Regions from separate parts of the Homo sapiens genome. Here region 1 is linked to region 2. The links come from fine-mapping of genetic effects on gene expression. A gene starts in region 2. The other region holds a variant in brackets. All regions are shown on one strand. Distances are from middle to middle.

The links. PIP is the estimated chance that this variant, and not a neighbour inherited with it, causes the effect. A credible set is the group of variants that fine-mapping cannot tell apart.
Region 1: its variant is the best candidate, but not a certain one, in a credible set for the expression of PKNOX2 in putamen (GTEx, PIP 0.79).

What each region holds. Positions count from the first base shown.
Region 1 is chr11:125,237,547-125,242,912 of GRCh38, reverse strand. The region is part of intron 2 of PKNOX2 (PBX/knotted 1 homeobox 2); the gene reads right to left. Among named protein-coding and RNA genes, the nearest start is that of PKNOX2-AS1, 27 kb to the left of the region's middle. The variant G/A (reference allele first, on the strand shown) is at 2,643.
Region 2 is chr11:125,162,092-125,167,457 of GRCh38, reverse strand. PKNOX2 (PBX/knotted 1 homeobox 2) reads right to left here and starts at 2,707. Exons shown (of 13, transcript NM_001382323.2): 1 at 2,682-2,707. PKNOX2-DT (PKNOX2 divergent transcript) reads left to right here and starts at 2,849. Exons shown (of 3, transcript NR_125759.1): 1 at 2,849-3,117. RefSeq lists a silencer at 2,845-2,994.

The sequences.
Region 1 (5,366 bases), 75 kb before region 2:
TATCCATTGCATTCGCTGAGCATTTGTTGAGCACCTACTGTGTACCTAGAAACACTGCAGGCTCAGCAGAGCATGATGGGGACGTGAGGATGATTGCAAGCCTAGATGAAGAGATAGGCCATGGACAGACGTGCCCCGACAAAGAACAACAAGCAGGGCACTAAAACTCAGGAGCCAAGAAGGACACACCCGCCACTCTCCTGAAAGACTGCCTCGCTCGCACACTCACACACAACCCGCCCTCCCCCCATCCCTGCCCCGCATTGCACAGGAAGACCTGAGCCATTTCCCCTGGGCTGCTCTATCCCCAGCATGGAATGCAGACTCCTCCACCCCTGATGTCCCCCCACCAGCTGGGCAGCAGTCCAGAACCAGTAACCAGAGGCCACCCTTCAGGGCCTGTGCACCACTCAGGCCCCCAGCACATGCAGACACACACAGGCAGGTACATGCAGGCATCCTAGAACATGTATGAACCCTGGCATCGTGGGGAGAGAGAGTAGGGCAAACTCCCAGAGCGGCTTAGCTTCCAGTAAGGATGGATGGGTGGATGGGCAGGTGGGGGTATGAAGAGGGGAGACTGGGAAGTATAGGAGCTTTTACCTCCCTACAGGGAGATGCTCCTGGGGTTCCCCAGTGGGCCCCGTTACAGACCAACACTGCCTTGCCCTCCGATGACAACAGGCCAGCCTCAGTTCCCTCTGCAAAAATAGTACCCACCTCACATGTGAGCATGTGCGAAATGAGACAGCGACACACCAAGCACAGGGCCCCCACATAGACGGGGAACCACAGATGAAGTGCCCCTACTCATCTTGTGAAATGAAGGTGATGAATGGATAGGCAGCTCCCTCTGCATGGTGCATGGTGTCAGCAGAAATCAGTCTCCTGCTCCCCGCCGCCATCCCCCTCCACCTTCACCATCCATCCTGGAGCTTGGGGGCTTAACTGGAGAGTACCTCTCCATCACTCCACCCTCTTCACCTTGAATCATACATTCATCCTTCATCCTTTCTCTCTCTCTCTCTTTTTTTGTTCATTTGTTTTGTTGTTGTTTTTTGATGAAGTCTTGCTCTGTCACCCAGGCTGGAGTGCAGTGGCATGATCTCAGCTCACTGCAACCTCCACCTCCTGGGTTCAAGCAATTCTCCTGCCTCAGCCTCCTGAGTAACTAGGATTACAGGCATGCGCCACTACGCCTGGCTAATTTTCGTATTTTTAGTAGAGACAGGGTTTCACCATGTTGGTCAGTCTGGTCTCGAACTCCTGACCTCGTGATCTGCCCACCTTGCCCTCCCAAAGTGCTGGGATTACAGGCGTGAGCCACCGCGCCAGTCCCCTCCTTTCTCTTAATCAGTCTTGTAGGGTGCCTGTTATGACCAGGAACGATTCAAGGTATTGGGATTGAAAGAAGAATGGGGTTCAATGGTTTACATGGATAGATAGACTAATAATTGTGTTTGAGTCTTGTGATGGTCTACAGGCAAAGGAACGCAGCAGCATAGGGATGGGGGAGGCTGGGAAGGCCTGTAAGGAGGAAGTCACAGAGGAGATAAATGAGCAAGGGCCGCCCAGGCTGAGGATAGTCCAGATAAGCAGCATGTGCAAAGGCACCGAGGCATAAAAGTACACAGAGTATTTGTTGGGGGAGATTGAGCAATCCGGCATAGTTGGGGTTTCAGCTATAGGAGTGTGCCTGTGTATCTGAGTGTCTGTATTTACAGGGATGGGGAGCAGCTGCAGGGTGAGAGATGAAGTTAGGAAAGTAGACCAGGGTTGAACCGTGAAGCCCATGGTCAGCCAGGCCAAGAAAGCTGAACTTCAACCTGTGGATAGCAAAGAACCACTGGAGGTGGTCCAGCATGGGGATGGCATGGCCGCATATCACAGCAGCATTAATTAGGCTCCAGCTATCGCAAGCACAGCGCTAGGCTCCTCCAGATACGGGAGGCTCTCCTTGGCTAGCTCTGATGATAAATGGGTCTAATGAGGTATTTTCCTCTTTGATCCATGCAACTATCCCTGGAGAAATGGCTAGCTTTGGAGCAATTTTTCCTCTCTGAAGAGCCAGCTTGGCTGGCTAACTGCAAAGGCAAGAGGAGGGGACCCTACACCATCACTAGTCCCCCCACAGCCAAGGATACTGGGAGCAGCACTTGGAAACCCTTCAGAACCTTCTTATAAGCCTCCCGGTTCTCCCTCTGAGGATTTGAGAAGGATCTGAGAATGGGTAATGGTGGAAGTGACAGGCACCACAGAGAAAGAAAAAAGAGGGAAATCCTTTCAGGCTGGACAAGGATTTAGAACTGCATTTCAGTGGATGAAGAAAGGCGATTTGGGTGGTGGCAGCCACCTTGCAGCTTCCAAACTCTGCTCAAAGCCTCTTGCCCTGCTTGCAGCGGGAAAGGGTCTCTCTCCCTTTCCACCTCTTCTCTCTCCTCCCTCCCATCCCTCCTTCCCAGCTCCTCTCCAGAAAGGTTTATGGAGAAGACTCCAAATAGCCACCTCTCCTGCAGGCATAGTCACACCAACTGAAAGGAGATTTAATTAGCAAAATCTCGTTAGGCAAACGAAATTATCCGTAAGACAATACTCTTCTGGACAGGGGGTATGATTAAACAAAGCCATTAATTGAGAGAGTC[G/A]CCTTGGCAGCTCCCAGATGCGTTCATCTCTGGGCCGGCTCCACTCGGCCTCCTTGGGCCAGGGAAACAGACTCTTTGCCTCCTCCCCTGCCCGGTCCACCCCCTCCCCACTCCATCTCACTCTTCCGGGGCGCCTCCAGTTGGGGCTGCAGACCTCGGCATCTCATCAATCGGCCTCTCTGCCGCCAGATTCCTGCTAAAGTGCCTTGATTGCATAACGTCTATTTGCATAATGTAAATTGCAATCTCCTAGCTCAGGAGGCAGGAATCACAGAACAGCCATTATTTTTTACCACTCCACAAAAATTCTACATTTAGAAAGCAGATTTGCAGCTCGGAAAGCCTGAATCCGAATCCTCCAGAAATGCCATTAAATCACACCAATTAAGCTGGACCAACTAAATGCCCCTGTCACTGCTCTCTGCACACTCAAGGACTACCAGCCTAGATGGAGGCCATGAGAACCTGGAGGCTGGGGCCACGGAGCTGGCTGCAAAGCCGGAAGAGGCAGGAAATTCTGCCTTATAAACCTTAGCACACACCCTTCGAGCATAGGTTCCCATCAAGATCTGGTCGAGCGGGGTGGATCGAGTCTGTTGTTTTTACGCTCATTGCCTGATTTCTTGCGGGCACTCTGACTGTCTGTAGATGCAATCTACGGAGGAAAGAGCATGTGAAGAAGAAACCTCCACCTTTCACAAAGGTAATGGGAAGATCCAAAGTGTTTCACATGGGGTAAAACATCCACCCTTTTAGTGGTTCTTTAATGACCTTTTCTCTCTCCTTGCAAGTCCCCTCCAGCCAACTGAAATAAAAAATGAGGACAAACCCTACTCAGGCCAGGCTGGGCTGGCTGGATTCTGAGCTGTTTTTGAGAGCTGTTTCCTTAGGGGTCACTGGGGTGAAGGGTGAGTTACAAGGTCTCTGGAAAGCGGGCATTCCCTTGGACAGCCAGCCAGGATCCTAGCTCCTCTGCAGCAGTATACCTGGCTAGTGTTTTGCCTCTTTATTGCTCATTCAATATTCATTTGTCAAAGGGCAAGACACTAATGTGTATTATTAAAATATCAATAGTTTATGAGTGAACTTTTATGGAGAGTACAGTTAAAGGCAAGATTCTTGACCGTCTCTGTCAGAAGCAATGGAAAGGAATAGCCTTTCTTTCCAACTCCACTTTTTATTTATTTACTGGGCGAGTGAATGGCTGGAGCCTTAGTGAGTACCTATTGTGTGCCAAGAATGGCTCTAGGTACCTGCACATGCTGGATCGCAGTGAGTCCTCATAGCAGTCCTGGGAAGTATATACAACCCCATTTCTATTCCAGAGATGAGGAAGCCAAAGGCCAAAGAGATGTGCCCAGGATCACAGGGGTGCCAAGGCTGGGCTTCAAATCTGATCTTTGTACTTCAAATCCAACATTCTTCTCCCAAGCTGGAGCCTTGAAAATCTAAATGACCTTTATGTTTGTGTCCATCTGTTTCCTTCATGTGCCCAAATTAAATGTTAGTTTCCTGACCTAAGTTTCACAAAAGGGGACAGAATAGGAAATCATTCCATACTTTCACCTAGACTCAACTCCATGAAGTAGGCCCATTTAGATATAACTAAGCAAGTTCCCAAAATCTTATCTGCACATTTAGAATCTTAGAAATGACAGTAGCATTGGGGATGATGCCATCAGACATTTCCATTTACAGAGGAGTCAACTGAGTGTCATACAAGAAAATAGTGTAAGTCTCAAGAATAGAGAGTCCTTAGTTGAATTTCAATTCTGTTACTTCCTAGGGTATTCCTCTTGCTCTCTAAGCCTCCTCTCCTCTTCTGTAATAGAGATAATAACATCATCCCATAACATAGTGTGAGGGTTCAGTGAGAAAATGCACCCTAAGTGCTTAGCATGATGCCTAGCATGTAGTAAGTGCCCAATAAGTGGAAGAATCCAAGACTCTTCCTCCAAACTCTAGCACTTTTTATCAAGACCAAGTCCACTCACCCCTCTCGCCCCTGCCCCCTCCCCTTTGGTGTTAGCCATTCTCAGCTCTCAGCCCTTTGGGGATACGGGCTGGTTGTTTCTACTCTTTGGTTGCTTGGGCTTTTTTTCTATCCCCTTAAGTCACAACAAGGCACCTAGGACATTCAGATCCTCTTCCAGGATTTAGCTGCATCCGGGTCAGAAAAATGGCAAAGGAAAGAGACTATAGTTCTTGGAGGGCACAGCCTCCTCAGGACATAGTATGTGGCAGAGGGGAAGGAAGGAGAGCAGGGGACGTGAGGTCAGGGAGGAAGGGCTGCCCAGAATTCCCCAGCTACAGCACAGACCCTTGTAGCTTCTTAAATCCTAATCTTTGTGTGAAACCTACCCCAGCTTAGAAGTCCATGGGGATGGAGGTCCAGGGAGCCCTGGATGTAAGTGAAGGGCTCAAGGCTTGTGGAGTCCTGGCTCACAGTCTAGGACTCCTCCAGACCTGACACTTGAAGCTGTGGGTTACAGACTCAACTCACTCTTGTTGAGATCGACCCTGAGGTCGAAGTTTCTGCTAGCTGCAGGACCTATTAACACCAGCATGGCCTGCCCAGGAAGGAATCCTTGCCTGGCCTCCGAGGGCCCTTTCGACTCAAACATTCTGTGAATTAAGGGACAGTTTAATTTATCTAAGGCAGGGGGTTCTTTAGCCTGTCTTTCTAGGGAGAACAAATCACCCCCAAAGAAGGGTTCCTTTTAT
Region 2 (5,366 bases):
CCCTCGGGCTCTCAGCGGGAGAGAGCTCTCACGAATTCCAAGCCTACAAAACAACAGCCTTGGAGCTCCGCGGCGGCAGTCGCCGCGCCCCGGGCCGCCGAGGCCACTCGTGGGTCGTGGGTCGTGCGTCTTCCGTGTCCTGTAAGGGCTGTCTGGCTCTCCCTGCCAGGGGTGCAGGGGGCTGGGATGGTGGGTTTAATATTAAGAGGAGGAAATCTCAAATCTTCCTCCCCTCAATGCCCTCCTCCCCCCCGCTCCCACCCCCCACACACACTCTTTCTCTAGATGCCCAGAGAATAACCTACCTCCCTGGTCGGGACCCCTTCCCACCCCACACCCCACAGCTAGGCCCAAGCTATGGGGATGCAGCCCGAGTGGGAGATTATGAGACCAGAAACGGGACCCTCCCTCCCCGCTTCCACCAAGGTCCTGGGGCCTCCGAAGGCCAGAACGGCAGAGAGAGCAGGAGGGCAAGGGCAGGGGCTTTGGGTAATACACCGTGTTATGTTTGAACACCATCATTCTCAGATTTGGGGCGGGGAGGATCGTCTAAACTGCCTAAAATGCGAAGCTTTTGGCTGCCACCGGTTATAGAGCATTTGAAACCCGAAAAGCTAATATCCTGAAGTCTCCGGACAGGAGAGATGACAGTAGGGCACTCCAAGCTTCCTCCTCCCCCGGGCGCACCAAAGGCCGGGTTTGTGGGCTTCTCAGTCCGGCGCGGGTAAGCACAGGAAGCGGCTCCAATCAGGGCACTGGAGTTTGAGCCGGTCCTACCCTGGGCCACAGCCCAGACTCCTCGGCCCACTGTGGCACCTCGCTGCTAGCGCTGCCCCCCGGCCTTCATCGCAGGCCGCGGCCCCTGCGGGCCACCGCTCCCGCCCCGCCGCGCTGCGCCCGCAGACCCAGGTGGCTCCTGGAGCACTCCGAGCCGCCTGGGTCGGGACCTCAGATCCACTCCCAGCCCCGCGAGGCTGCCCTGCCGCTTCGCCCAGAAGGTCTCTTCGATCTGTCCGCTTCCCGGAATCGCTCTCTTAGGACCGGGTCCTGTGTGGCCCAAGTCCTCTCCTCCTAAAGAAACACTTTCAGGGGGAAGCAGCAAAAATTCGGGGCTCGCCTGCCATGGCTCAGATCAACTACTTTCATCGCCTACCTAAACGCTTTTTCACACGCGGAGCTGCAGGACCCCTCGTGCTACCCTCCCCAAATTCCAATAGCTTCCACCACAAGAAAAAGCTGTGATCCTGTTACTGAATCCTAAAAACGCCACCCGTTCCTCCAGCCCCCAACTCCGACCTCCAGCCCTCTGCTCTGGCCGGCGTGTAAACTACTTATCGGCCCCTCGATCCCGATTCCGTAAACAGTCTGGATCCTATAAACCGAACTCTAGACTGGTCCTAAAACCCAGCCCTAATTCAGGCCGATCCACAAGCCCCTACCCCTCAATTCCCAACCCGAGTCTCCCCACCGCGCGGAAACCCCCGGCTCCCCCGTGAAGAGCCCCGGGAAAGGACGGCCCATTTCGCTCGTTTCTTCCTGGGGATCGGGAGCCAGGAAAGCCCGTCTCCTAACCCGAAAGAAATGCAAACTTTGAGCGGCAGATTCGGGATCCTGCGCCATCCCCCTCAGCTCTCCGCTCTCGATCGCTTTCAGTTCCCTCTTTTACGAACTCATCCCCTAGTTCTCGAGCCAGAAGGGCTCCCGATTCCCAAGCCTCGCGCGGGCCCCTACGCCCGCCTCACCAAAGATCCCCAGCAATCATGGAAAGCCGGTGACCCTACACATTCTCGCTCCTCCCTGGGTGAGGGTCCGTGCGTGTAGCCCCTCGGATCCTGGCTTCCCGGGCCCCGCCGGTGTTCCCCTGTCTCCACTGATCCGTCTGCAAACCCTCATTCGCCCTGCCTCCCCAGGCCGCGGCCGCGGCTCCTCGACTCCTCCGGTCACCTGGCCCCAGCCTGGGACCGCTCCCGCCTCCAGCCGCTGGAAAGCATCTCCAGGCTGGTGGCGCGGAGTAAGCGCCGGCCCCAAGGACGCCCGAAGCCGGGAGAAAGAGAACCTGGAGCCTGCCCGCGGTTCCCAGCCTCTCCCCGCGGAGCGCCCGGCCGGGAGCCTTCTGCACCCGGGCTCGGGCCGGCGTGCCTGTTCCTATTCTCGGGTCCCCTGGCGCTCCTGGCGCACAGCTCCCCGCCCGCCCGCTACGGGGTTGGGCCCGCGGCGATTCGAGTCCGCAGCCCGGCTCCTTGCACCCGAGGACAATGCGCGGCCGGCCACGGGCCCAAGCGCGGCGAGGCGGCGGCGGCGGCGGCGGCGGGGCTGAGCGCTGGCCGGGCAGGGGAGCGGGCGGCCCGCGGGGCTCTCGCAGCCTCCGTGCCCGGCCTCGCCGCCCCTCGCGCTGCTCCGCTCCGCGCTCTCCCGGCGCTTCCCCAGCTTCTCTCTGCACGCTCCCGCCGTCCCTCGCTGCTCCCTGCCTCCCTCCTCCCTGCTGCCTCCCTCTCTCTCCTCCCTGCTGCCTCCCTCTCTCCCTCTCTCCTCCTTGCCCTGTCGCAATGAATAATACTCTGGCTTGGGGACTGGAATAAAACACACGCGCTCTGAGGCAGCCGCCCGCAGCAGCAGCCGCCGCCGCGCCGCCGCCGCCGCCTGCAAAAGCGTCTCTGACATGGAAATGAATGACAGCTTACCTGATGCCAATCTTCATCAGACTGACACCGGCGTGACAACACAGCCTATACTTCCCAGCACTGCTCGGGACGTCAGCGGCACAGGGACCCGCCCCCCGGACCCCCCCTTCACACACCTCCCCTCTCCCCACTCCCCCTTTTCTCCCCACCCCCCATCACCCCCACCCACTCCCGGCCCGGCCGCTGCCAAGTCGGAGGAGCCGCTGGAGTGTCTCCCTCTACCGGAGGCTCTCGGGCGGCGGGCGCGGGCCTGCTCCTGCGGCAGGGAGGCGGGCGGCCTGGAGAAGCGGCTCCGCTCGCGAGGAGCCTCGGATGGGGAGTGCGGTGGACCCCCAGGAACTCTGGAGCACCCTCCCGCCCCCAAGCCAAGTCCTCCTTAGCGAACAACCGGGGCCGAGTTCCAAGATATCACCGGTGCTGAGGGGACCGAGATGAGGTGAGATTTTCTGTGGACCCCAAGAGAACTCCCCAGAAATGATGAAACTTAAAACGGGCAAGAAATCCTTCCTTCCACCAGCACTCCCCCTCCCCCTTTTCCTGCCTGGCTGGCCTCATTTTTATGATTGCATTTGAATAATTCTCATTACCCTGGCCCCAGAAAAGGTGTTCAGATGACACTCTGGTTAGTTATTCCTGGTCTCAAGAGCTTTTTCTGCTGTGGGCTTCCCGGGGTGTCTGGTTCAAGGTGGGGCAGAGGGAGAGAGGAAAGAGTGGATAGGCTTTGTCAGTAAAGCACTTCTTTGCAAATGTCAGGCAAGCCTGTTCTAAGCCACTGCTATTTTCATTCTAATAAAAAGTCCTCAAGAAACTCAGTGAGTTCCCAGAGTTCTGGGGGCTGGGGTGCAGTCATATAAAGGGAAAGACCAGCTGGGCTGTTTCAGCCTGGGCCTGCTGGGGTGGCTTCATCTACATCAGGGAGGAAATGGGCTCCTTACATGCCCTCTACAGTGGAAGACAAAAGCAGGCATGTGTAGACCCACAAGCGCCTCCATTCACTCAGCAGAGATCACAGTCCTACTAAGAGCCACACACAGGAGCACACTTGCTTGCTTCCTCAACTTAGCACATGGCCCTCCGCATAAAGGGACAAGAGAACCCCTTCTGCCTCTGGAAGTTTGCTTCTTGCTCCCCATAGAGGAGCCCTTTCAGCCAGTCAGGCAGCCATTGATCCTCTGACCCCAGGCCAGGCAGGGGGCCTGGAAGAAGCCCAGACAAAGACACCGACAAAAGCGGGAAAGCAGAAAGTGAAACCCAGCCTCTGGGTTTTCAGTAAAGAATCTGACCCAAGAAGTTGAAGGCTGCCCCTGAGCTCTTCTCAGGCCTCTGGGTCGCCACTCACCCGCCTCCGTCATGGGCAAGGATGAGAGCTGTTAGCATTGCCTGGCTCAGGGGAGGCAATTGAGACCCTTCTTATATCACATCCCAGATACACACACTACTGTTTGTCCAGATCCTCCCAATACCCTCAAATCCACCCACCAACGTTGCTTGTGGGAGAAACTCTTCAGTGGTAGCCCCCATTATAGACAGATTAGAATCCTCTCACCTTCACATAGAACCTTCAAAAACTTCACTAGGTGGATTTATGTCACCCTAGCCTCTGATCTGCAGTCAGAGTCTCTGGCTGCTGACAGCATAATCGCTATTATATATTATACATTGTATAATAATATAATAATAATGAATGCACTTGCCCTTTTTATGTGGTACAGAAGCGGCCAGATTCTCCAACCCAGAGGCTGGAGGTCAGGCTGCCATAAACTCTCAGAGGGAAGCCCTCTTCAGATAAGGGAGGGGGAGGGGAGATCCATTTGTCTCTGCCCAGGACCCCTGGAGGGAGGAGTTTCTCTCTTTCCCATGGCTCCCAGTGAGTTGCTGCAGCCTGCAGAGTCAGAGGGGAAAATCAGGCTGAATTCACCCCATCAGAGAGGTGTCAGTGAGCCATAAATAGGACCGCAGGCAACAGCCTTGGATCACTGATTTACACCTGTCACACCCCTCGTTTTCTGAAATCTAGATCAATGCCCAACACTTTCCTGATATGGGAGATCCATTGCCATGAGCTATTAATTTTTGGAGTCTTCAAATACTATGATTTTCACTAATACCTTTTTGGTGCTTTAAACTGCACATCGTAGTTTTAAGTAAATATATCTTGCTTTGACTATTTTTGTCATTTGCAAGAGCTTAAAAAATGATTATCCAAAATATAACCATCGTTTTTATAATCACTGAAGGCAAATATTTTCCCTGCACCCACCAGAAGCTCTGCTGTGTGCTAGCACTAAGAATAAAGAGCAGAAGCAAAGAGGCTCAGGTTATGGCTCCTGTCCTCAAGAAGCATTCATTTGTTGAAGAAGACAAAGCGCCAATATGTAAAACATTAAGTAGCAATAATACAGGAATCAACAGAAGACACAAGCTAGTAAATACTTAATGAAGAAATGAGTTGTCAATATGTCAAATTCCATGAGTTCCACATCTCAGTTTTGGCTCTGTCAATGAGTAGAGAAAGGATAGAGTAGAAATTAAGAATTCACTACAGATACTCTACAATTTCTTCCCCATCATCCCTCTGAGGATGAAGAAGAGAATGGAGAGGAATGTACATGTTGTATTGCATAAGCCATCAACACACTGACATTATAACCAAATAGAAGTTTCTACAAATCCTAGTTATCACTC